2 separate regions of the Homo sapiens genome follow, and region 2 is linked to region 1. Evidence: fine-mapped expression QTL. A gene starts in region 1. The other region holds a variant in brackets. All regions are shown on one strand. Distances are from middle to middle. Region 1 holds the start of WWC2 (WW and C2 domain containing 2). Region 2 overlaps WWC2 (WW and C2 domain containing 2).

Evidence for each region.
Region 2: its variant is fine-mapped to the expression of WWC2 in whole blood (INTERVAL, PIP 0.96).

Annotation. Positions count from the first base shown.
Region 1 is chr4:183,097,695-183,100,601 of GRCh38, forward strand. WWC2 (WW and C2 domain containing 2) reads left to right here and starts at 1,563. Exons shown (of 23, transcript NM_024949.6): 1 at 1,563-1,928. The coding sequence starts at 1,798. WWC2-AS2 (WWC2 antisense RNA 2) reads right to left here and starts at 1,505. Exons shown (of 1, transcript NR_024008.1): 1 at 1-1,505. RefSeq lists an enhancer at 322-616 and a silencer at 322-616.
Region 2 is chr4:183,147,857-183,150,763 of GRCh38, forward strand. All of the region lies in intron 1 of WWC2 (WW and C2 domain containing 2), which reads left to right. Among named protein-coding and RNA genes, the nearest start is that of WWC2, 50 kb to the left of the region's middle. The variant T/TAA (reference allele first, on the strand shown) is at 1,765.

The sequences.
Region 1 (2,907 bases):
GCCCCGACGGGATGGCCTGGGGAGCCGAAAGCTGTCCCCAGCCCCGGACAGCTACTGCCCACGCCGCGCAGGCCAGCCTCACACAGTAGCGAATCTCCTTCACGCGACTTCCTCGCAGGCCTGTGAACCCGCAGGGGAGGCGGAGGTCGGTTCAAACCCTGCGAGAGCCCCTGCCCAGCGCGGAGTCCTGCACACGGTGGAAAGTCCTTACGCATTAGCGGGCAGGATTAAACGACTTCACACCACGAGGTGCAAGACTGGGCTTCGGGGCCTTCCTCGGTGTTGCTATTTTAAAAGAAGCTGCTCAGTAACCCAGAAGAAGATGACGGGGGACGGTGGTGTAGACCCGGCTGGAGAGGAGTCCAGGGCCTGGGAGGCGCCCCCTCTGACTGAGGGGCTGGGGACCCTGAAGCTTGGCGTCCAGGCCCCGCCAGCGCTGCACCCGGCATTGTCCCGCCTGGGGCAGGCGTCCGGTCCCTCGGCAGTGCGGGCCAGCACGTACGTAGTAGCTGCTGAATAAATAAATGCCTATGCAACAGGGAACGTCCCGGCCCACCCCGGCCGGGCCAGGGCCTAGGAAGGGCGGGCGTCCGGCGCCGCCGTGGGTCCCTCCGGCGTGGCCGCCCACACCTCCTGGCCACGGCGGGGCTGCGGTGGGGGGACATCCTGGGGCGGGCGGCTGGACGGAAGGGACTAGAGTCGGGGCGCGTCCACGGCCAACCGCCCCGAACCAAGCAGGGGAGGCCAGGGACCAGGAGCTTCCGGGGCCCCGCGGCTGGAGCGCCCGGACGCGAAGGGGCGGCGGGTGACGGGGCGCGGTGCGGGCGGCTACAGGGCCGGACGGGAGTTCCTCCGCTTTCCGCCGCGCGGCTCGCGGTCTCAGCCGAGGTCATCGAGGGCCAGGAGCCCTGGCGGAGGCCCCGCCGTCCCGGACCCACCGACGCACTCCCAGGGCTTGGCGCTTTCCCACCACCCCGGACCGCCCTTGGGGTGCCGGAGGGGCTCGGGGCGCGGCGTGGGGAGCCTTTGTGCCCTCTCCGCTTGTTGAGGTTTTTTCTCCGGAGGAGAGCTCCCCGCCCGCCACCCCTTTCCTCTCGAAAGTTTTGTGGTTTCCCTAGAAGACGAAAGAGGTTGAGAAGGTTGCGGAGACTTTTGCAATCTTCCCCGTCCAGAAACTCTAAAACCTCTCGGCGTTTGGCCCAGGGGAGCTATCTGGGGTCAAGGGGAGGGAGCTGGCCGCACATTCCTTCGCCCGCCTTCCTCCCACCTGGAGCCGCGGCCCCGCGGGGCAGTGCGTCCGAGCTGGTGCGGCGACGCCGGCAGCGGCGGGGTTAAGCTCAGGAATGCGGCGCGAGGAATGCGCATGCAGATGAGGCGGGCGGGCGCATGCTAATCGCATGCAAATGAGGGGCCCGCCGCTGCCGCGGCAGCGCCGCAGCTTCCCGGATCCGAGCCCAGACGGCGGCGGCTCCGGCAGCCTGGGCGCCGCGACCCTCGGCGGCCAGAGGGGGACGGGGCGGAGGAGGAGGAAGAGGCGGAGGCAGCGGCGGCGAGGGGGAGGAGGGTTCGCTCGCCGGCTCCGACGCAGACATGGTGGACTGATCCGCAGCGGGGCCGCGAACAGCGTTTCCTGAGGCACCTCCCGCGCGTGGTTCCGCCGCGCCCCGCGCCCTGCGCCCCTCAGCCCCTCGCCGGCGCCCGCGTCGCGGGTTGGCAGCCTAGCCCGGCAGCCGCGTTCCCGCCGCGTCCCGCGCCCGGTACCTATGGAGGCGCCGCTCGCCGGCGAGGCCGCCGACCATGCCTAGGAGGGCCGGGAGCGGTCAGCTGCCGCTGCCCCGGGGCTGGGAGGAGGCCAGGGACTACGACGGCAAGGTCTTCTACATTGACCACAACACCAGGAGGACCAGCTGGATCGACCCCCGGGACAGGTGGGCGCCGGCCGCGGGGGCGCGGGCCCGTTCGGACACGGCGGCTGTTGTCCCGGAGACCCGGCCGCGCGGGGGGCTGGGGCGGCGCCGGCCCGCGGTGCCCCGAGGGGTCCCGGGAGGGATGTGGGGCTGGCTGCTCCGGCGGGGCCGAGGAGCCGCCCGTACCCGGGCTCCTCCGCCCACCGGCTTCCCGACGCCCCTCCGGGGACCCGGCCCCGAGGCAAGGCTGGAGTCGCTGCCCCGGGCCGACGCCGCGCGCCAGGCTAACGGACCCGAGGGGCCACCTGAGCCCTGTTAGGAACTTCCCTAGGCTTCGAGGTGCCCACGTGGAGGCTGCAGGACACCTTCGGCCTCTGGGCGGCGGGGGTGGGCTAGGGCCTCACTGCCAGTTGGGGAACGAGCCCTCCGGGCCACCTGTGGCATCCCTCAGGCCGTCCTTGGCGCGGGAGCCTGGGCTGCGAGCTCTTGGCGGGGGCGCCCAGACTGGCCGGAGGTCCCGAGCTGGGAAGGGGCTCCCGCCCCCCGCCGGGCCCTGCTAGTGGGTGTGACTGACTTTGCCCCTCAGAGTTTAAAAACGCGCGTTTGGGGGTTTCGCTGTCTGTCGTTAGTCTTCACCTGAAAACTTGAACCGACTCCCAGATCGGGAACAGGCATATTGTGTTTGGAAGGGAGATGTAGTGAAATTAACGTTGGGTATTGAGGCACTCTGATTTGAGCTTAGCCTGGTTTCTTTGTTTTTTGTTTTTTAAATTGGTTCAGGAACTGAAGGTTCACAAATGTTTCTGTGTCCCATATTTTTTTTACCCTTAAAATTTCTTAGAATTATTGTAAGAATAATAGGAGGTATTCCTAATTATAAATTTGTAAATTATCCATTAAGGAGATATTCCTAATTGTAAATTTAAATAACGTGCCACCAGGGATAACTTCGACATTTGGACTTTTGTCATTTCTGAAAATTATAACTTTATTGAATGTG
Region 2 (2,907 bases), 50 kb after region 1:
TGGTAAGGTATATATTTGCACATGCTAACATACTTTGTTCTGTTTCATTGTTCAAAATGAATGGCAACAGCCTTTATAAAATAAATACTTAGAGTGATTGTACTGAATAATCCTTTTGTTTTGAGTAGTTAAAAAAAAAGCAGGTTATAAGAAATCTTAGAACTCTGTGAAATTCCAGCTCTGCTGTGAAATGATCTCATTAAAGCCAACCTTATACTCTGCTTTACCTCCCGAGTACAAAAGATACATGTAGCGTGTGAGGTTGTGGCCTCTCACAGTACCTTAGGAACGCACGTTTTCCCCTTCATGGACAAATACCTGACTTGGCAAAACTGAGTTTTTTTGGGATATAAAGTACTAATGAAAAATACTGCTTAAAAGAAACTATCCAAGGTTTCATCTGGTGATGATATTATTCCTTATTTATATCATTGCTGATGAATAGTGAATTTTAGTAAACTTGGTCTAGGAAGCTTGTTTAACCTTATTTAAATTAGATGTGAATCTTAGATTTTAACTAAGTAAATGTATTTAAGATTATTCTACTGCTTGTATGTCCTCCTCCCCATTTTAATATAATGTAAAGAACATTGATATCCATCTCTGATTTTCTTGTTAAGCTATCTTAATGTTTACTGAATTCTATGAGTATGTTCCCTGCTGCCTTCCCCATTTCTCTGCTTAAATCAGAAATGGCTTTCCTCCTCTCCAAAGGTGGCACTATATAAATGACATAAATAGGCTCAGGATTTCAGAAAATGATTGTATGTCTTCGCTTCTTTCTAGATATCTTTGTTGTAGCTCTCAGCTCATAAGATAATGATCTGTGTTCCTATGCAACTTCTGTTCCCAAATTTGAGCTCCTTGCAGCAAGGACTTTCCTATTCAACTAGGAATTTCTAGAAGAAACTGCTTCTTTCCTGTGCCAGGGTGTCCCGAATGAGTTAGAAAAAGCATTTAGTGTAGATGAGCAATTAGGAATGGACCCAGCCGGGCACAGTAGCTCATGCCTGCAATCCTGAGGCAGGAGGATTGGTTTAGGCCAGAATTTTGACTTTTTAAAGTATCAAATCCAAATTTTTTTTTTTTCGTAATTGGAGTAGTGGTAGTAGGGAAGGGCCTTATTTACTGATGCTCAAAGTGCCTCAGTACATACTTAGCTTAATGGATAATCTGGAATTACCTTTAGAATCTCACTCATCTAAGTCTTTTTTTTATTGTAAAAAATAAAACCTATAGAAATCCACAGAAGACAAAGTAGTATGGCTTTAATGAATTGTCATAAAGCGAATACCCTCCTAACACCAACCAGAACACTAGAACTTTGCCAGCCACCCCAGAAGCCTTTTACAGTCCCCTTCTCATAAAAGTAATTATCCTGACCTTTATGGCAATCATTTCCTTGCTTTTCTTTAGGAATACATGCTTGGGTGACAAAATGACAAATATCATAGGTGGTTGTTTCTTTTGAAAAACAAATCTTTGGCCGGGCGCGGTGGCTCACGCCTGTAATCCCAGCACTTTGGGAGGCCGAGGTGGGCAGATCACCTGAGGTTGGGAGTTTGAGACCAGCCTGACCAACATGGAGAAACCCCATCTCTACTGAAAATACAAAATTAGCCAGGTGTGGTGGTGTATGCCTGTAATCCCAGCTACTCAGGAGGCTGAGGCAGGAGAATCGCTTGAACCTGGGAGGCGGAGGTTGCGGTGAGCCAAGATCGCGCCATTGCACTCCAGCCTGGGCAACAAGAGTGAAACTCTGTC[T/TAA]AAAAAAAAAAAAAAATCTTTAAGTATTTTTTTAATCTATAGCTTCTCTCTTTTTTTTTTTTTTTGGCTGATAGAATCCCCATTGTGCAAGTTTGTATTTCTTGTAAATTGATAGTGGATCTAGAGATTTGCTCACATTCAGAATATATGTATATGAACATTTCGAAAGCACACAGTGTCTGAGATGTTAGCAGCCGTTGATATCTACTGTCTAGATCCGTGAATTAATATGGGGTTGCAAAACAATGATCTCATTCAGTCATTTCTTTTTCATTTGTTTGCTCAAACATTTCTATAAACTGGGGTTTCTCTTCATCTGCTTCTTTGTTACCCAGTAGTATAGGGTACCCAGGAGGCTTCTGGGTTGCTGGGATTTACTAGCTATGGGGTTCTCCTGGGACCTCTTTGAGGTTGAGAAACTGAACATACCTAGAAAGGGCCATTTGATAGGCATAGGTCCAGTGACAGTGTCTTGGTTCTTAGGTTGGACAGGGAGTGAGAGGTCCTGGCCTGCAAGCCTGTTGCTGCCATTGAGTACTTCAGAAGAATGGACTCTGTACCTGTCCATTTCAGCTGCCCAGTTTTTGGATCTATTCCTGTTTGTTGACAGATTTAAAACCTTATTTTGCTATATGAAACTACTAAATATCATCTGGTCCTATCGCTTGCCATTAGTAGTTTAAGAGATTTCAATAGGTGAAGAGATTTCCATCTTACAGAGAGTTCAAGGTCATCAGAGGCCAAGTTCATAGATTTTAATCTCAAAATCAAAGTCTGAGTTAGATTTGCATCTTAAACAGAGTTCAAGGTCATCACAGAAGCCAAGTTCATCAATTTTAATCTCAAAATCAGAGTTTTACATTGTACGTTGATGTCATTATATAGTATTAGGTTTGTTTTTTAAAAAAAGATTTTAAAAACTAAACTTTTTAAAATTATTATACTTTAAGTTCTGGGGTACATGTGCACAACATGCAGGGTTGTGTGCTGTGTTGGTTTGCTGCGCCCATTAACTCGTCATTTACATTAAGTATTTCTCCTAATGCTATCCCTCCCCCATCTCCCCACCCCACAACAGGCCCCAGTGTGTGATGTTCCCTGCCCTGTGTCCAAGTGTTCTCATTGTTCAATTCCCACCTATGA